Homo sapiens: one gene and its partners. The protein of the gene in region 1 interacts with the protein of each later gene in a biochemical or structural test. Each region holds a gene or a part of one and is shown in the gene's direction. Other genes may lie near its edges.

Region 1 (7,113 bases):
TGTTTAATAACTGTTAGCTTTTACTATAGCCATTGAGGCCAGCCCTCAAACTGAGGAAACCAGCCTTTTCCAGTAATTGTTCTTCCCAGTTGCTTTGTGAGGCTGGAGCACTTCAAAATGAAGATTTGCATTCCCAACCAAATGAGACCTGTTTGTTCTGGAAATTGCCACAGTACATCCAGAATTTTCAGCTGGTTCCATGTCTCTTTTCTTTTTTATAGTGAAAGCAAATTCAGTATGATTGTGCTGCTCACCCTCCTACACGTATTATACTGTGAGATACTAAAACTGGCGTGTCCTCAGGTTCGCTTCTGCTTCCCTGACATAGAGCATCTCTGGCCACTTCTAAGAATGTTCCTAAGGTCCTTCGTGCCTAGCTCTTTTTTAAAGATAATTGTTCTTGTGCTACTGTTACCATATGTCCCCAGATCTCACAGTCAGCATCTTCTCTTTTGATTATTCAACAGAATTAAGGACCATTATCCCTGGAGGGTCACAAGGTGGATACCATGAAGGGGGAGAGATGAGGGCAGGGCATTAAATCTGAAGAGATAGATGCCAGTGGGGATGGAGAGGAAGGAGAGAGAGCCCAGGTATTCACCTGTTAATGCTTTGTCTTTGCACTTAAAATTGGAAAATTTACACCTCTGTCTCTACTTCAGTTTTAAAGGTGAATTTTCTCTACCCAATAATGTTTTTAGTTACTTTGCCAATATTGTAAGTAAGAGCTCTATGTGGCCTGAAGAAGTTAGGTACCATCCCATGGGATGATTTACGCATAACATATTTTCTTACCTATTCTTCCCTGTTTTTTTTTTGTTTGTTTGTTTCTTAAACTAGTGGGCCAGCAAGCAGAAATGTAGTAATGATCTATCCCAGAGTATCTGTTAAGTGACATTTTGATAGTGCCACCAGGCTGTTACAAACCAGTTTACCTCTAGATAATTCCAGGGTTTATCTTTTCAATTGGGACTCAAGCTGTGAAACCAAATTATGGCATGTAATACTTTTTATTGGCCGTGCATGCATTTTGCCATGAGTGAAAGCCAAATGTGGCCCGCAGTTGGTTTTATGAAAGGGTGAAGGAGATTCTCAAGAGAAATGCAAAGCAACTAATGCTTTTCAGCATTAATGTATCATATTCAGTTATTTCTCATTCGACTATGAGTCCAGTTTTGGGTCCTACCCTTTAAGATAAACAATAAACCAGAGTATTTTGAAAACATTTGGGGGAGAATGAAATTGGGATTGGAATGTAGGTGGACTGGAATAGTGCTGGAATGAATGGATATGATAGGGAATCTTTAATTAAAATATTTTTCATTTGGAAGGGACTCAAGCCTTGTGTGGCTCCATAAAATTATGATTTCTACTTAATATTAAGGGCAAGTGTTCTGGCTGAAATAACCAGAAATGAAATCAGCTTCCTTATAATGCAGGAGTTCCTGTGTCTTGGAGTATCCTCTAGTAGACTGACTGTTTCCCATAAGGAATGCTATCAAAAGGATCCCTTCTTTCAGGGATGCCTCTCTTCTTCTCACCCATATTGTTTATTTAAAATATTGAAAATATAGGGCTAGAGACAAAGCCTTATGCAACTTAGAGTCCTCACTCTAGGATGACAAAATTCATTAATCACTGTTCACTTGGAGCTGTTGATTGATCAGCAAGTCATCCACGTCAGTACATGGAGCCCATGTTTGAGTCCTGATTGCCTCTCAGTTCCCAAGAGTGGATTTAAGAACCAGCCTTGTACATAATTGTCATAAGTAATTTGCTTTGAAAAAAAGCCATATGGACTGCAAGTTCTACATTTTTCTCTTTTTTCCAGTTGAAAATAAGTTTGAAGGATTCACTTTCAGAAAAGTATAACAATATTGCATTTTATACATAGTGTATAATAAGTTAATTCAAAAATCGTAGATGTATCCTAGTAATTATCAGGGTTGGTATGTAATAGCTGACATACTTACTTGACAAGTACAATTCCAGTTTATCCCAAAGCATTTCTGGTAGGGATGAAGGTAGAAGAGAAGAGATGTATCATCTCTCCTTTTACCTAGACAGGAATGGGGAACCAGTTCTATAGGCATTAAGTGACTTATTTCACACAGGTTTTTTTTTTTTTTTTTTCCTTAAGTTATAGGACCTAAATTCTGGCCCAGAACCAGGGATTTCTTAAAACATAACCAAGAGCTATCCAGGAATTTTATTTTGGAAAGTTTCCAAATTCCTAATGTTGAAGTAGTGGTGCCCCTACCATAGTCATTTTTACACTGAAGACTAATCCTTTACATAGTCTTTCCAGGTCTTCACTAGAGAAACCGATAAAGTTTTGACAAGGTGCAAGAAAGAATAATATTCTTTCTAGAAGCACAGTTGGCTCTTGTCTCTAGTGAGGGGAGGATGCCAGAAGAGCAGGGGAGTTGGTTTTATAATAGATATAATTGCAAGACCAGTTGGTAAAGTTCATCAATACCGTCTTCACTCCCATCACCTCCATCAGTGTCCAGGATCTCACTTCCTTCAGGCACATCGTCCTGTATTTATTTCTCCCAGATTATTGTTCACTAACCCTGCTCCAAGGAAGAAAGAACTGTTTCTTAGTTGAAAGAACACATGATTTTGCAGTTGAATCACATTGAGTACAAATGCTAGCTCTACCATTTATAACCTGTATCATTATTTCTTAGAGTCTCAGTTTCCACAACTGAAAATGGATTTGATACAACAGCCCCACTAGCTTATTAGTAAGATTCCTTTGACTATACCATACTAGTGGTTCTCAACTAGGTGGAGGTAGATTTTGTCCCCCAGGGACATGGGGCAGTGTGTGGAGACATTTCTCATTGTTTTCAAGGGGCTGCTACTGGCATCTAGTGGGTAGAGCCCAGGGATGCTGCTAGCCAGACATCCTGTAATATGCAGGGAACCGCCTAAAACAAGACTTTCTTCAGTCCAAAATGTTAGTAATGTCAAAGTTGAGAAACGCTGTTTGAAGCCAATGTGTAACTCCTAGTGGGTAAGTCTAGGATGATATGGATATTAATGAACAACAGCCTTAGGCATGTCTCTGCCCAAGTATACTTGCTTTTTTAAGAAAGGGGATTTGGTGGTAGAGTGGACTCTCTTAAGACTGGAACATCTTTAAAAGAAATGAAATATCAGAGTAACAGATTGTAAGGTTAATATATCTGCCCCAAGAACTGCCCCCTCAGGCCCATTCCAGTAAGAAGAGCCCATCCTTTACACCTGGGGGATATACCCTAGGGCAGGAGTCTCCAGTCTCAGTCAGGTACTGTTCAGTCAGTGGCCTATCAGGAACCAGGACTGCACAGCAGAAGGCGAGCAGGGAGTGAGATAGTATTACCACCTGAGCTCTGCCTCCTGTCAGATCAGAGGCAGCATTAGATTTTCATAGGAGCATGAACCCAAATGTGAACTGTGCATGCAAGGGATCTAGATTGTGTGCTCCTTAGGAGAGTCTAATGCCTGATGTTCTGAGGTGAAACCCCCCAGTCTGTGGAAAAATTATCTTCCACGAAACCAGTCCCTAGTGCCAAAAAGGTTGGGGACCGCTCCCTAGGATACCACTTTACTATGCTTACTCCAGATGAGTTTGGAATTGTATGTCACTTACCATTGCCATTTTTTTGTCTTGCATTTTTATTTCATGAGTACTGTTTTATTGCCACGGGTCTCATTTGAGAGTAAATTGGATAGAAAGTCTAATAATGTGACAAATGATGACCTTTTTTTTTTTGTCTTGGGAAGATCTTATTAAAGAAAATTATGTGTGTGTTTTGTTCTACCCAGAGCAGGATCTGGGTAGAAGAGGATGGGTGCTAGATTCTTTGTGTTTTGCTACCACAGATTACAGTCAAATATATAACAAGTAACTTGTTTTAGTAGTTCTTTAGAAATTTCTATTCTCGTAAGATAAATTCATTGAGTTGTCTAGAAATCATCATCTGATAAATACTCATTCCAATATTCATTTCCAAAGAAATGAATTAGTCACCTGTTTCCGAAATCTTCCCAACACAAAGGTGGTGATAATACCAGGTATCCAAAGGTGCAGAAAACTTTCCTGTGGGTGACATTGTTAATGACTCTTAGCAGACAGAGCCAAGCAGTCGGCCTGTGGTGGTGGTTCTGTATCATTTTGTCATATTAAATGGGGAGGTTAAACTTTTGCTTTTTTACAGTTTGACAGTGGCTGTTGACCTTTTGCTGCTTGAAGCACTTTTAGGATTGTTATCTCAGCCTTTCATTATAGTACATCAAAATTCACTTTTATTAATCTTGCAGTTGTTAGAGATGAGAAGGACACTCACCCTATTGTCAGTGAGCCTGAAATCTAATAAGGAAGACAGGATGTAAGCAGTTTCTAAGTACAGCACAATGCAGAAAGAGGTGAACATTAAATAAATGAACAGAGAGTGCCCTATCAAAGACTTGGTTAATTCTGAAAAAGATTAATGAAGGGCTTGCAGAGGAGGTGGCATTTTATTTGCATCTTAAAAGGAGGGAAGGAATTTTTTTTTTATTACTGTCAGGAGGATGGAGAGACCAGGAGGATATATCAAGCTGAGAAATGGAAGCTCTATAAATAGGGAGCCCCATAAACAGGGAGCCCCCAGTGTTCATATTCTTATTGGTGAACATAAGTAGACCTGTGAGGTTGAAGTGTGCATTGTGTCAAATATTGAAATGGTAGGTCAAGGGAAATGGCTGTTTAAGAATTAGATTATGTTCTTTGAAGGCTATACCTCGAACTATGAGCAGGAAAAAAATCATTACTGTTTTGTAGGAGAGGAGTGAAAGCTGCTTATTCATATTTTAGGAAGGTAGCTCTGGCATCATTGTGAAAGATGTACTGAAATGAACATTTGGAAGCTTGGGAGGTGGTCATTGCAGTAGATCAAAGACAAAAGAATGAGAACCTTAAATTCATTGGGGTGAAGATGCAAAGGAAAGGATAGATGAGAGGTGAAAGAATGTTTGGAGGTAGATTTGTCATGTTTTGACTATTCTGAGATGTACATTTTTTTTCAAATTATAACATCTCTGGAATCTGATTGTATCTTAACAATTGTAATTGACAGTTTTTCATTCTTAGTGATACATAAAATATTGGTGAATCTTCAAATCTGTGGCTTCTTAGACTTAATGTATAATACCAGCGTCTGGTGACAGTTTGGATGGTGAGGATAAGTAAAAAGAGTGATTCAGAGATAGCTCTGTTGTAGCTCAAGTGGAGAAGTAGTGATCTCATTAACTTAGGTGGGAGGGTGTGCAGGAAGAGGAGCAAGTGTGTAGTGGAGGCCAAATTATGGTTGAGGCAGCTGCAGGATCCTTATATGTAGTCGGCTCCTAGGCACTTGGATATAGTAATATTACCTTTTTTTTTTTTTTTGAGGGATTGCTATGTAGAAGTGTCTGTGCTGACATCCATTATATTATCTTAAACCTGAATGAAAAGGTTACTAGGTTAAGCCACAGTTTTCAGAGGCAGAAACTGATGCCCACAGTAGCTAAAGGGCTTACCCAAGGTCAGACTGCTCAATAAATGGCAGAACTGGAGTTGGCCCCAGGTTTGTCTGTCAGAGCCTAAGCTCTGCCACTTACTGACTCCAGTTACAGAGGGAGACTTGGGAGTTGTCAGCATAGAATAGATGTTAATGCCATGTGACACATGAGATTGAGAGAGAAAATAGAACACATCAGATAAGATGGCCCAGAACAAAACATTAGAGAAGGCAGTTATACCACCTTTAGTATCTTGACTATAAGCATCCCACTCTCTGATCCTGTTTCTATCATACTTATTCTCTACCATTACTTCAACCTCATGGAGACATTTTTGTTGACCCTATCACTTTTTCACTGTTATCATTACCGCTTGTGTACTTGTTTCCCTTATTATTCGTGGTCATTTGTTATCATCAGTCCCTGTCTCTTCCTCCTTGGCAAAACCCCAACTCTGGGTAAACCAAACTACTCATCTACTTCCTTCCTGAGTCTCCACAGCTAAATATTGATAAGAAAAATACACACCTACGTTAATTAATCTTACTTTGCATTAGAAACCACAGACCTGGAAAAGGAACTCAACAATGTATAGCAATCTGCTACCTATCCCTAGTAAATTAGCTTTCTCACTTTTCAAAATTACTGCTTTATTCTCCTGTCTTCTCAAATCTGTAACCCACTTCCCTTCTCGTTTTCAGCTGATAACTTCACCTCATATTTGATGACAAAAGATAAGCAGCTGAGATAGTGGGAACATGAATTTCCTCATTTTTCCATCCACAGATCTTCCAACCCCTTTGTGTTTGTTCACACACCCCCTATTTTCCCTTCTGTTGCAAAAGAAGACAAACCCTCACTCCTGTATGTGCCAAAATCTCCTTTTGTGCTTTGGATCCCTTTCCCCTCTTGACTTCTTAGGGACTTTGTTGCCTATCGCTGTAATACCCCCATCACTCTTCATCCATCACTAATATCCTCTCTTTATCATTCCCATTGGTATTCCTAACCGTCGTCTCATTTTTATGCTCTCTCCTTTACAGCAAAACATGAAAGAATTGTCTGTATTTTCTGTCTTCACTTCTTCATCTTTCATTGTCTCTCAACCTCCAGTCAGGTTTCCATCCCCAACATTCGCTGAAACAGTGCTTGTCGGTAACTGATCAGAGTGACTTCCAAGCAGTTAAATCCCATAGTCACATCTCAGTGCACATCAAACTCAATCTCACATCAATATTTTACTTATCTGGCCGCTGCCTCTCTCTTGAAAAACTTTCTTGCCTTGACTTCTGTGATATCATATTCTCCTTTCCTACATCACAGGACCCCTCCTTGTCAGTTTCCTCTGCTGGTTGCTCTTCCTCTTCCTTTGCTTGCTGGAGTGCCTTCTTTTCTCCAGCTGTTTTGTCCATTCATGAGATCTCCTCCAGTCCTATGGCCTTATATGCTCATGTCTTTTATGGCAGTGACTCAAAACCTGCCTTGTTGAACTTGTCCACTTAAAAATGGGCTTAGCATCACAAATTTAGCATGGCTAAAACAGAATTCTTGATTTTTACCTTGTGCGAAATCTGCTTTTCT
Region 2 (7,115 bases), on another chromosome or scaffold:
GAATGGAAACAAACACCCCATCAGAAGGCTGTTGTAAGCAGTCAATATAGGTGATAATGGGGGCTTGGTGTGGAATAGAGAAAGGAGAGGGGGAGGCAGCAGCAATAGTGTAGATGGATTCAAGATATAAAGATAAAATCAACAGGACTTGCTGAAGAAAGGAATCCAAATATTGTGATTCTATGTACATATCATGCTTTCCAGATGTCTGTGTCTATGCACATCCTCCTCTTGCAATACCTGACCTCTCCCCAAGCTCTCACTCTATTTACTTGGCACACTCCTACCCATATCCCTTTCAAAACTGAGACCTAACATCACCTTTCTACAAAACTTTGTCTGACCCTTAGGAGCTTTCAAGTTCCCTTGGCACTTTGCACATGCTTCTAATACAGTGATTACAGGCTGCAATGCAATTACCGGTTTACATCGTTTTCCAAGCATGTCTGAGGCCATTTCAGGGCAGAAACTATTTTCCGTTCACTTTTAGCCTTGGGACTGATGACAGTGCTTAGAAAACTGTCGACTAATTAATCAAAGTTAGCTAAATGCATTTGCCATTGCACGTTACACATTCCTTCATTCCTAAACTATTATAGCAAAACGATGCTCATTCGCAAAGGTATTAAATACAGGCTGGGTATCCTTGGGACCACAAGTGTTTCAACTTTTGAATTTTTTCAGATTTTGGAATATTGGCTTTATACTTACCTGTTGAGCATCCCTAAACTGAAAATCTGTGGGGTTGGTTATTTATTTATTTATTTATTTATTTATTTATTTATTTATTTTTTGAGACAGGGTCTTGCTTTACCACCCACGCTGGAGTTCAGTGGCACAATCTTGGCTCATTGCAACCTCCACCTCTCAGGTTCAAGTGATCCTTCCACCTCAGCCTCCCAAGTATCTGGGATTACAGGAGGGTGCCACCATGCCCAACTAATTTTCTAATTAGTTTCCCAGGCTGGTCTTGAACTCTTGGGCTCAAGTGATCTGCCTGTCTCAGTCTCTCCAAGTGCTGGGGTTATAGGCATGAGCCACCATACCCAGCTCCTAATCTGAAAATCTGGAATTCTCCAATGAACATTTCCAATTTCCAATTGAGCTCCAATGAACTCAATGAACATTGAGTCTCATGTCAGCACTCAAAAAGTTTCAAATTTTGGAGCATTTCAGATTTCCAGCTTAGGGATGCTCAAACTGTACGGAACATGTTTTTTCTTTGCTCTTTTTTCCCCATGTCCTAACGTATTGAAAATATTATTATTTATCCTCAAGTTTCAGATCATTCCCCAATGACTCTATATTCAGAGAAATACATATATATCTGCATAATTTACACTGCTGTATAAATCCATTAGATTCTGTTCAATGATTGGACTGTGCTTCTTGCTTTCACAAAGAGCACAGTATATAGGAAAGATCTAATTTTAAAGTTAGAGTTCTGTTCATAAACCAACTCTACAATGTATTGATGATGTGGCTTTGGGTAAGTTATTTAATCTCTGTGGATCTCAACTGACTCAATTATATAATAAGGTTAATACTTCTATATCACAGGGTTGCCATGAGCTTAAATGTGAATGTGTAGTAACTAGCACAAATATATACTCAATATATTAGTTCTTGTTTCTCCAACTTATCTTTTTCTTTTTTTTGAGACAGGGACTCACTTTGTCCCCCAGGCTGAAGTGCAGCGGTGCAATCAAAGCTTGCTAGTTTCAGCCACCTGGGCCCAAACGATCCTCCCACCTCAGCTTCCCAAGCAGCTGGGACCACAGGTGTGTGCCACTACACCTAAGTTTTGTTTTTTATTTCTTTATAGAGATGGGGGTCTCCCTATGTTGCCCAGGCTGGTCTTGAACGTCTCAGTTCAAGGGATCCTCCCACCTCGGCCTCTCAAAGTTCTGGGATTACAAGTGTGAGCCACCATGCCTGGTCCAATTTACAGTCTTTACAAAGAACACAGCCTTTGCAAAACTAAACACAATTTGTTTCTCATCATGGCACTATCTTTACTTAAGGGCTAAGAATGGAAAACGTCCACCCTTACACACAGCTTAGATACTAAGGTCCAAAACTACCTTCCCTGATATGGTTTACTGTCTACATTAACATGAATTTATTATTTTTTGTCTTCATTAGCATAACTTTACTGTTCTAGAAGACTTCTGCCCAAATAACTTAATCATTCATTATAAGAACTTCATGAGAAATCTATTAGCTTTTCACGTTTTTTATTTTTATTTTTTGTTTACAGGGTCTCGCTCTGTCACCCACCCTGGAGTGCAGTGGCACAATCATAGCTCACTGTAGCTTCAAACTCGTGGGTCCGTCCAAGTGATCCTCCAGACTCAGCCTTTCAAGCAGCTAGGACTACAGAGGTGCACCATCATGCCTGGCTACTTTTTAAAAAAAATTTTGTTGAGACGGGGTCTACCTATGTTGTCCACGCTGGTCTCGAACTCCTGGGCTCAAGCCATCCTCCCACCTTGGCCTCCCAAAGTGCTGGGATTATAGGCATGAACCACATGCCAGGCCTATTAGTTCTTCCAATAGAAAACCTCAATAGTTTATGCCTTAAGGCTTCTTGCACTCTTTGCTTTTCCTATCAATCTTAAACCGCTGTATCAGATCAGAGTCCAACCCTAATCAAGCCATCTTCCTCCAACACCCTCCTACCCTCTCCCTCTGAAAGACCAGCCTTAAGCCATACCCATCAGTAAAATCTGACCTTGCTTTCCCAGTTTAATACACTACCAAAGCTCTCAGTGGTGTTCTTCCTTATCCCAGTGAGCAATAAATTCAGCTGTCTTAACAAAATGTCATGTTGGTGATATTTGGCGAATTATCACCGGACAGGGCAGTACATCTATAAACATAAAGACAAGGCAGAGGGATTTCCCCACAAATGTCTAGAAATACTGTAAAAATGAGCCAAGATAAATTATACACCAGGCTAATTACGTCCACTAGTACATCCATTAATCAGAAGGAAATGGGTTAGCCAAGACCACAATAGAAAGTTTCCTTGCAAGGGTGGCCAATGAGTCTTAAAAATTCTTTTTGATTAATTCCACATTTATACTGCAATTTTGCCCAGCGCGGTGGCTCAGGCCTGTAATCCCGGCTCTTAGGGAAGCAGAGGAGGGAGGACAGCTTGAGCCCAGGAGTTTGAGGCCTGCCTGGGCAATACGGCGAGACCCCGTTCTCCACAAAAAGGAAAAACAAAACAAAGCAATTATATTGCAATTTTGTAAGCCCTTCCTCACAACAGAGCTGTTCAAATACGACCCTGAACCAAGAAAAACTGAGTCTCAGATAGCTCTTATATCTTTGGGCGTTACCAAAAACAATTCTAGGGTAGGCTGCCTAAGTGACTGCAAGAGAAATAAGCAGCTTTAAAATGAGGTCCTTCTGAAGAACAATCCAGATCCATCATCAATGTCACTAAAGTGTAAAGAACACTAACTTCTATGGGGTCTAATCATGGTCTAATGACTTGCCGCCACCCAGGTAAAGCATTCATAGCTGTGGGGTGGGAAGGAGAGAAGAAAGCACCAGGTACCTTTCAAAGTTTACTTTTCACCGAGACAAACTGATCCCAGCCGACGCTCCACAGGACTTCTGAAGCTCCACCAGCTCCAGAGAAGGGGGAGGAGGTGGTAGAAACTAACAGGATTCCGTGGGACCCACCCTCCAGCTGACTGAGGACTGGCCCGCAGCGGTGAAAGGCCTTTGGGGTCCCTAGCTCCTCAGGGACTCCTCTGCGCGCTCCGGGATCCATACCTGGCAAGCAATAGCGCGGCGAAAGCCGCACGCCATGTCCACCTCTACGGAAGTGCGCCGCAGTCCGCCAGTTCCGGCCTCGCCCCACCTCCTTATACGACCCGCCTCCCCGCGCCGGAAACCCGCCCCGGAGGGTGATGCCAGCCAATCAAGGAGCCGTGTGGCTCGCCACTAACCTCTGCCCTGCAGCCGCGAGGGCGCGCGGGAAATCCCGAGTGCATCTGGAATACGCAGAGTCAGTAAGACCATGGCTACGTCCTCGATGTCTAAGGTATGTGGTGGCCGATGCGCACTGTGGCTCTACCGCTGCCTCATTCCCCTTTGAAGAAGGGATGAAGCCGAGGTTACGTAGGCATCCCTTCCCTGGCTGGAGAGGAGGGAGGGAGCGGCGTACTGAGCTGAGGCGTCCTTGCTCCAGATCAGTTGAGGCCAACTTTGCTTGGGGAGCGAGGACGCGGATCTGCCTTGTGGTATGGCTAGGAGGATTTTTAAGTTCTGGTTGGTGGAGGTCGGATGTCCTGATGATGTGGCCCAGTCTCTCATTTTTCCATCTCACAAATACTGTGCGCCAAGCACTCCGTTAGGTACCAAGATGCAGTGGTAAACAAAACAGATTCAGTTTCTGCAGTCAAGAAAGTCGGTAAACATAGATAAACTGACGATCACAAATTTTAAGTGTTAGCAAGGAAAAGAGTTCTAGGCAGACAACAGAAGAGTGGGAAGAACCTAATATAGGTTGTCGGGGGTTAGCGGAGGCTTTTTGGAGAAAGTGACCCTTTCGCTGAGACCTGAAAAATGAGTAGAAGTTAGGTTAAGGATTAGGGCGAGGAGGGCAGAGAGAACAGCATGTTTCTTCGGCCCAGAAGATAGAAATAAAATGGCATATTAGAGGAATTTAAAAATCATAATCAGAAAGTAGACAAAGAGTGGGAGCGTCATGAAAAATGAGAATGAAAAAGTAATGTGGATGCGGGTGTGTGTGGTGGGATATCTTATAGACCTCCTCATGTTGGCTACCTAGATGGCAAGAAATTGCAAGACATAGTGTAGTTGGTAAGAAGATAAGCCCTAGAGCTGTATTGTCCAATGTGTTAGTCACTCACCACATGTGGCTATTTAAATTTGAGTTAAAATAAAGTAAGATTAAATAAAAATTCAGTTTCTCCGTTGCACTAACCACATTTCAAGTGCTCAATCATCACATGTGGCTGCAGCTACCATTTTAGATAGTGCAGATATAGGACATTTCTATCATTACAGAAAGTTCTGTTGGACAGCGCTGTTCTGGACCACAAAAAGTAAGACCTTGAGTTCTATTGTAAGTGCAGCGGGAAGCCCCTGAAGTTAAGCTGTCTGAGAAAGCTGAAAAATGCACATGAAGAAGCTACATTCTCCCTATGTTAAAACAATGGATTGATGAAGAAGGCTATGTCATGGATCTGATTTTTTATTTTGATTAAAACGGTTTATGAGAAGCAGTGCTTTTAAAGACTACATCTCAAGGAAAAAGGACAAGCCCTGGGGTTTAAGGTTATGCTAGTAGAGATTCAAAGGTAGTATTTTTATTAGAAATGGTACTGGTTTTATTTTGTCCTGGTTATAATGTTCTGTAGGTTTTGAATGGTCTATCCCTTAATCCTGTTGATTGCATAAGCACCTCTTATTTTTATGTATCTTGCAGAAAGTAAGATTTTTCAGGAAAGCATTTTTGGTATTATAACAAATGTCTGTATTGGGATGAGACCTTACATGAATAAGAAGCTTTAAGAACTATTTCATGAATTTATGGAACTGCAAGCTTTTTTTCTTTTTCTTTTCTTTTTTTTCTTGAGACAGAGTCTTGCTCTGTTACCAGGCTGGAGTGCAGTGGCGCGATCTCGGCTCACTGCAACCTCCACCTCCCCGATTCAAGCTATTCTCCCACCTCAGCCTCCCGGGCAGTTGGGATTACAGACATGCCCCACTACACCCAGCTAATTTTGTATTTTTAGAAGAGACAGGGTTTCACCATGTTGGCCAGGCGGGTCTCGAACTCCTGACCTCGAGTGATCCGCCAGCCTCGGCCTCCCAAAGTGCTAGGATTACAGGCGTGAGCCACCACGCCCGGTCCTTAAACATATCAAAACATTTTAGTGTCTCTTTCATCGTGAAATTTTCTGGCTGTTGGCCTTCCTCTATCTCAAACACCATCACTTGACCAGCAGTTCCAAATGGTTAACCATGTTACTACCACTGCCCTATATTAAGATCCTTTCTGATCACTCCTCATGTCTTGCTCCTTTGAAGCTCCTTTTTCCTTTACTGAATTGCAGGTGGATTTGGAAAGGAGGTAATGACAGGTTTGTCATGGTATCACATGATTTTTCTAAATATGTATGTGATTTCGCACACTTCTGCTAGTTGCAGATATAAGAATATAAGGCACAGGGCTGTGTGCAGTGGCTCATGCCTGTAATCCCAACACTTTGGGAGGCCGAGGTGGGTGGATCATCTGAGGTCAGGAGTTCGAGACCAACCTGACCAACATGGTGAAACCACATCTGTACTAAAATACAAAATTAGCCTGGCATGTTGGTGGGCGCCTGTAATCCCAGCCTCTCAGGAGGCTGAGGCAGGAGAATCGCCTGAACCCGGGAGGTAGAGGTTACAGTGAGCCAAGATTGTGCCATTGCACTCTAGCCTGGGCAACAGAGGGAGACTCTGTCTCAACAATAGCAGAAAAAAGAATCTAAGGCACAGTTCTTAAATGGGAACATGTAATCCAAATGGCTACTTTATAGTTGCACAGCGGTCTTTAACACTATCCTGAGACAACTTTTCCTAGGTATCGTTCTTTCATTCTGTCTTTTATTTTCCATAGAAATCGAAATATTTAAGAAGTTATCCATCAGGCCGGGTGCAGTGGCTCATGCCTCTAATCCCAGCACTTTGGGAGGCCGAGGCGGATGGATCACGAGATCAGGAGTGCGAGACCAGCCTGGCCAACATAGTGAAACCCCGTCTCTACTAAAAATACAATAAATTAGCCAGGCATGGTGGTGGGCACCTGTCATCCCAGCTACTCAGGAGGCTGAGGCAGGAGAATGGCTTGAACCCGGGAGGCAAAGGTTGCAGTGAGCCAGGATCGCACCATTGCACTCCAGCCTGGACGACAGAGCGAGACTCTGTCTCAAAAAAACAAACAAACAAACAAAAAAAAACTATAAGCTATCCATCATGTATGACTTTAGAATTGGTAGAATAGACTAGGACCACTAACTTGGGGGTGATCTACCACTGGTCAAACAATAATATGAAACTAAACATAGCTGGGAAATTACCAGGAC
Region 3 (7,113 bases), on another chromosome or scaffold:
CTGTCATTGAACTATCAAGGCTAGAGAAAAACAATATTAAACATGGAAGAACTCAGAGAACACTACTCATAAGACATTTCTTAGGACGACCTTGATGTGAAAAAGAGATGACTGGAGAAACTAACAAAAGGATTGATGATGAACATTGAATTTAATTAAGCTTAGCTCCAAACTAAAATTAAGGTGGAAATAAGAGTAGAAGAATAGTATGTAAATATTATGTATTCTGACAAGGTAGGAATATTACAACTTAAAAATTGGGAAAAGAAGGAAAAGAGAAAGGGGAAAATTAAACTTGTTGATTGCTATACAGGTGAGAGATGGGCATCAAAGAATACTTCAAAAGCTAAAACTACTTTTTTTAAAGTATACTCAAAGAAGGCCCACACTCATCCTTATCACTTCCACCCTGTTCTTCATGCAGATTTTGGATATTTAATTGTTCTAATCTGGCATTATTTTTAAATTAGCCCTGTAAATTAGCTCATTTTTAAGAGTTCTGTGAGAGTTTTAGAGTTGGTGAGCACCTTTGCATCAAACTGCCTTATTTTTTTTTATGAGTAAACTATTCATTTTTTCGAAGTCATGCAGCTAAAACTGTCGTAGGGCATTCTTTACTCATTATACTATAGTGTGTTGCCTTATAAATTCAATTTGTCGTGTCATAATCACTTCATATTCTTAATAGTGTTTTGGTTGTTTAACAGTTTTAATTGCAAATAAGTCCAGGATGGGGCAATTAAAATACCTTGAACTCTGCAAGCATCCTACAAGGATTCGACTCGTAGCTCTAGTATTGACTGGCTAAATGTCCTTGGGTGACTTAATCTTTGAGCCTCAGTTTTCTGGTGTGATACCTACTTTGAGGGATTGCTATAGAGTTTAGAAATAGTATATGACAATTGCATCTAATACGGTAACTAGAACATTGGGAGTTTTACCGAGTGGTAGGTGGTAGTATTTATTGGTTTTTTGTTTGTTGTTGTTTTTTTTAAAGACAGGCTCACTCTCGCCCAGGCTGGAGTGCAGTGGCACAATCTCAGCTCACTGCAACGTCCACCTCCCAGGTTCAAGTGATTCTCGTGCCTCAGCCACCCAAGTAGCTGGGAGTATAGGCATGCGCCACCATACCCAGCTAATTTTTGTATTTTTAATAGAGATGGGGTTTCCCCATGTTGCCTAGGCTGAGCTTGAACTCCTGGCCTCATGTGATCCTCCTATCTTGGCCTCCCAAAGTGCTGGGATTACAGGCATGAGCCACCACACCCGGCCTGGGTGAAGTTTTTTGATAGCTACAACAGTCATCATAGTAAAAGAGATTATTAAAATAGTTAATATCTAGGTATTGCTTTATAAATTTATGACATTCTAATATATACATTAAATTATTTTGTACAGGTACAAACATGTTTATTGCATGTATATATTTTTCTTTTCTGTTTTGTTAATAAATAAAAAAATTTAGTTTTTCTAGGGCTCTGTTTTAAGTACACCATATTGATTTTATTTATTTTTAATTCATTTTTGCTCTTCTATTTTTTTTCAGTTCCCAGTGGGAAAAGCTACAGAAAGATGACACAGATCCGGGGCAACTGAAAGGTATCAGAGGAAGTATTGAGACAGTTACCGGAGATACTTCTTCAGCTAATTATCAAGATACTAAAGTTAATACTAAAGAGCATTCAGTCAGGAAATAGTGTTATAAAAGAGAATTTACTTTTCAAGCTATAATGCTATTTTGATTAATGATTTTTCTTTAACTGAAGCTCTAATTTAATGGGAGGAAATAAAAGTTTGAATACCAGCTTTCTATTTTCTAAATATTGGATTATATCATGAAAATCAAGCAGTTTCTATTTCTTTAAATGCTTTTATTAAAGCAATCTAATTATGTGACAGTTTTATCTCATTATGTTTATATTTCATGAGTTTTATGGAATAAAATGTAATTTTATGTTAATCGGTTTGGGATATGCACTTTGGTGGTTATGTTTTGAAAACATTGTGCTTTTGTTTAAGAAAACTACTACTTTGGATTCATCCCAAATATTAAATAGAACTAATTTTACTTAAAAAAATGAGCAAATATTGAAAAAAAATTTTTTTTTAAAAGTCAGTGGCTGATGGTTAAAGAAAATGGTATGAAATAGTGCTGTTTTGTGTTTTTTTGGTTTTTATGTGTTCCAGATGCTTTACAAGTGACTTCTAGTTGTGTGTTTTTAGGAAAAGGGATAGATGCCAGAGTTAGAACAAATCTGTAATAATTGATTTGCACTACTTTCTATCTGTTTGACCTTGAACCCAGCTCAATTTTTCACTTGTGAGATAGGAAGAATATTTAGCATTACTGCAAAGATTCAAAGTGATGCTTAAGTAAAGCACCTAACACAGTGTCTGACACATAGTAGATTTTCAGTAAATATCAGATTCCTTCCCTTCCCTTAAGAATCAGTGCTACTTGAATGACCCTACTGTTTTAATATTTATCCATTCATCAGTTATTTTCTATGTGCAAGGCAGTGTAGGGATACAAAAAAACATTAGACATAGCTCCTTCAACAAATAGTATTGTTTACTAAGGGGTATGATTTATGTACAGGTTAAGCATTCTGAATCCAAAACTTCCAAATAGAAAATGCTCCAAAATTTTCTGAGTGCTGACATAAGCTCAGAGGAAATGCTTGTTTTCTTTGATTTTTCAGAATTTAGGGATGTTCAACTGGCATATACAAGTATTCTAACATCTGAAAAAATCCAAAACACTTCTGGTCCCAAGCATTTCAGATAAAGTATACTCAACCTGTACAGTTAACTGTTAATATAAGGCATCACGTTATGTGGGAATACTCAGAGTAGGAATTCATAGTAGAAATAAGTTTCTCTATTTTGGTGTGGTAGGGGAACACCAGGGGTTTAATGGAGAGCGTGGCCTTGAAGAGAAGAACGAGTAGGATTTAGACTTCAGAATGAGAAGAGCCAAGCAAAAATAATAGATTGAGTAAAGCCTGTCATTAATAATAGTGTTGATCACCACCACGACCATCATTATCATGACACTTTTTAAAATAAGGAAATAGGTCATTTTGACTAGAGAATACCATATGGAAATGAAAAGTCAAGTGAGAAGAGATACTTAAAACCCAATGTTAGCCTAATAAGTACTTCATCAAAGTGTTTTGTTATATAGGCCTCTCAGCGCATACTCATGTGGAACTTCCATATTACTCTAAGTTCATTCTAATTGCTGCATACCTTGCTTCATACAATCCAGCAAGAACTGACAAGAGGTTTTTTCTTAAGGTAATAATAACATACTTCTTTTCACTTTATTTTTTAAGATCCCAGGAATATTTTGAAATTTCTTAACACTTGTAAATTTCTAAGGGGAAGAGATTAGAATAAGATTGCCAAATATGTATTTAGGACTCATTCTTTAAAGGCTTTACATTAATGTCACAACCTCAAATTTGAGAAAAGGTAGGCAGTTTCATAGAAAAGAGGATATCAGGTATACCTTAGGTAATAATTCAGATTTAAAAAATACATAGGGTTTTGTTTAAAGTGTGGAGGATGGAAATAATTTTAAGAGCGGTAACTCTTTGTTGTTCTAAAACTCACTGTAGTGAATAATTATCCATCACACTGAAGGAGCCTCTCCTGTACATACATTAGTTGGAGAAATCCCAGTTTAGAGTTGTTTTTTTCTTCTTCTTTACCCACTATGTTCTTGTCACTTTAGACTTTTTCCTTTTTCCTCTTTCCTCAAAACATTCTGATCTCTTTCCTACCTTAAGGTCTTTGTCTGTATGTTCTGTCTTTCTGGAAAGCTCCTTCTCTACTCATTCTTCATGCTTCAGTTTAAATATTGCCTTCTCAAAGCAGTTCTCCCTGTACAACCTATCTTAAAGTAGGTCCTCTTTATTGTTTCCTATTTCACATGATGTTTGCTTTCTTCTTTGGACTTACAACAATTTATATTTATTCATTTTTTTGTCATGTCTTGTGCTACTCTTCAGGACTTTATTTTTTTTTATTTTTTTGAGACAGAGTGTCACTCTCACCCAGGCCAGAGTGCAGTGGTGTGATCTTGGCTCACTACAGCCTCGGCCTCCCAAGTAGCTGGGATTACAGGTGTGTGCCCCCACGCCTGGCTAAGTTTTATGTTTTTGGTAGAGACAGGGTTTTGCCATGTTGGCCAGGCTGGTCCCAAATTCCTGGCCTCAAGTCATCCTCCCACTCCGGCCTCCCAAAGTGATAGGATTACAGGTGTGCGCCACTGTACCTGACCCTCTTTAGTTTCTAGAGGGCAAGGACCACATCTATTGTTTTCCCCTGCTATTGAATCCTGAGTGCCTAACTAAAATGCTCTCAATCAGTGTTTATTATGTGAACTGTGCTTAACTAAAATGCCCTCCGTCAGCGTTTATTATGTGGATTGCCAGACTTATGGGATGAATAAAAATCCATATCTCTGGAAGTTTCATTTTTATAGCAATGTATATGCTGAACTAAATCAATATAATAAGCTCTTTTAGGAAATGTCATTATTTTATTTTAGAAATTCTTTTTTTACATGCAAAAGTAATTTTATATCCAATCCAAGTCTAAACGAAATTGGCCTAAAATATGTTGAAGTCTAATATATATACAAGGTGATAAGAAGAATAACTATTTAAAAACCTGAGATATACAGATTAGTATTATGTGTGCCATGTTTTAAATAAATAACGTTTTCTGGTTTTGTGGAATACTGTCTTTTCAACTTAAAATTTGTTTTCCTTAATTGCAGCATCATGGAAAAATCAAGAAAACCAACTTTCTAAAAAAACACGAAAAGGTATTTACATTTTAATTTCTAATGGAAGAAACTTAGGAAATGAAGATAATATAGGAAATAGATACATCTGTAATTGTATTTGTCATTTGAATATAGGAACTTATTTGTGTTGATATGGTACCGTTATACTGTAATAGAATTTTGTTATATTGAATATAGTGATTGAATGCACATTTAGGTGAGCTGCTGCTGGAGTTTAAAACTGAGTTGACAAAGTTTTTTAGTGACTTAGTAGATGAAGAAGTTTACCCTGGATTATTTAGTTAAATACAGCCAATTGAATACAGGCATTTTCCTCTTTTCTTTCCCCTTTGAAGCACCCACAACAAATAAAAAAGGTAAACTCATAAATACTAAGCAGATGAGAGACCCCCAGAATTTGCAATTGCATGGTAGGTAGATATTGAGGTGACCAAGCAGATTAGAGAAAACGCTAAAACCTAAGCCTCAAACTTAGCTAATTTGGCCTTAGGAATCTGGAAAAAAGCTTAGGGATTAGAAGCACTAAGTACTTTTGAAGGTGGGGTCAGATAAGGTTGAAACTGGTGAAAGAAGCATTTAGACTATTTAGATCACTTCTTCCACTTTGTATGTCCAAACCACTGTTGCTTTTCTTGTCAGAAGATGGAGAATTTTGAAATATAAACTCTGCACTATAGAAACTGCAAGTTTTGTTTCCCTTATTCTTAGAGGCAGTTTTGCTCAATTCCAGGACTTCCTGACTCCAAAGCCTACGATGATGTTTACCACTGTTCTTGAACTCCTACAATAGACAAATGGTTAACGTTTAGAATTTTTATTATTTATCTGTTTTTGAGGTAGGGTCTCAGTCACCCATGCTGCAGTGCAATGGCGTGATCATGGCTCACTGCAGCCTCAACCTCCTGGGCTTAAGTGATCCTCCTGTCTCAGCCTCCCTAGTAGCTGGGACTACAGGCACACGCCACTGTGCCTGGCTAATTTTTGTATTTTTTGTAGAGACAGGGTTTCACCAGGGACTCATCTAAGCCCAGGAGTTCGAGGCTGGTCTCAAATGATCCACTCCTCTCAGCCTTCCAAAGTGCTGGGATTACAGGCATGAGCTACCATGCCCAACCTAATGTCTCGAATTTTTAAAGACTCATTACAAACCAATAAGAAAAGGACAAAAATTCGATAGCAAAATGGATAAATGATACAATAAGGAACCTGAATGTCTAACAATCATGACATGATTAACAGCCTTATTCACTAATGAGAGAAAAAGTTAAAACAACAGTGAGATATTTCATACTCTTGGTTTGACAAAACTAAAAAATTCTATGATTTCAAGTGCTGGAGATAATGTAGAAGAGCGAGAGTCTGCCTGTTCTGCAGGTTGACAATATCTACTGAAGTTAATATGTGAAGTTAATATGTTAATATTAGGATAGACTAGCTATGCTTGTAGTAAAAAGCAAATCCCGGCTGGGCGGGGTGCCTCACACCTGTAGTCCCAGCACTTTGGGAGGCCGAGGCGGGTGGATCACGAGGTCAGGAGGTCGAGACCATTCTGGCTAACATGGTGAAACCCCGGCTCTACTAAAAATACAAAAACAAAAATTAGCCGGGCATGATGGTGGGCGCCTGTAGTCCCAGCTGCCTGGGAGGCTGAGGCGGGAGAATGGCGTGAACCTGGGAGGCGTAGCTTGCAGTGAGCCGAGATCACGCTACTACACTCCAGCCTGGGCAACAGAGTGAGTCTCCTTCTCAAACAGACAAACAAACAAAACAAAACCCCCCAAACCATGGTGGCTTTACACAACAGAAGTTTTTATGTTGCTTACAACATAACTGTGAATTGAGTGACCCTCTTTCATCTCATAGTGATATGAAGTGAAACATTGTGGCCTCTGAAGTTGCCACTAAAGGGAAAGAAGGTGAAAGACTAGGCTTGCAAGTAGTTTACATCACTTCTATTCATATTTCATTGGCCTGGCAGAACCCAGTTACGTGACCTCTATCTAACTGCAGGAGAGACTGAGAAATGTAGTCTTCTTGTGTGTCAGAGAAGAAACAGTGTTGGCAGACACATAGCACTGACTCTGCCTTGTGCTTTAATCCAGCAATCCTACTTAGAGAAACTCACACATGTGCACAAGGAGAAATGTACAAGATTATCAGTCACAGGATTATTTGTAATAATGAATTTTTTTAAGTAGTCATAAAATGGAATTCTGTAAGGTAATTTAAAAATGGACTAGAGCTACATGTATCTATATGGATAAATCTCAAAAAGCAATTGGTAGAGAGGTATG

What was found.
Region 2: of the proteins of OBI1 (region 1) and ORC3, one has a biochemical effect on the other in vitro, tested with the Homo sapiens proteins (one study listed by BioGRID).
Region 3: of the proteins of OBI1 (region 1) and ORC5, one has a biochemical effect on the other in vitro, tested with the Homo sapiens proteins (one study listed by BioGRID).

The regions. Positions count from the first base shown.
Region 1 is NC_000013.11:78,649,050-78,656,162, reverse strand, and holds part of OBI1 (ORC ubiquitin ligase 1), read left to right. Parts: intron 1-7,113. UniProt on the Homo sapiens protein: E3 ubiquitin ligase essential for DNA replication origin activation during S phase.
Region 2 is NC_000006.12:87,586,133-87,593,247, forward strand, and holds the start of ORC3 (origin recognition complex subunit 3), read left to right. Parts: upstream 1-4,002; 5' UTR 4,003-4,036; coding exon 4,037-4,060; intron 4,061-7,115. Other genes in the region: RARS2 (probable arginine--tRNA ligase, mitochondrial isoform 3 precursor), read right to left, coding at 3,790-3,825. UniProt on the Homo sapiens protein: Component of the origin recognition complex (ORC) that binds origins of replication. DNA-binding is ATP-dependent. The specific DNA sequences that define origins of replication have not been identified yet.
Region 3 is NC_000007.14:104,162,959-104,170,071, reverse strand, and holds part of ORC5 (origin recognition complex subunit 5), read left to right. Parts: intron 1-1,546; coding exon 1,547-1,599; coding exon of another isoform or gene 1,600-1,697; exon of another isoform or gene 1,698-1,883; intron 1,884-3,187; coding exon 3,188-3,300; intron 3,301-4,789; coding exon 4,790-4,837; intron 4,838-7,113. UniProt on the Homo sapiens protein: Component of the origin recognition complex (ORC) that binds origins of replication. DNA-binding is ATP-dependent. The specific DNA sequences that define origins of replication have not been identified yet.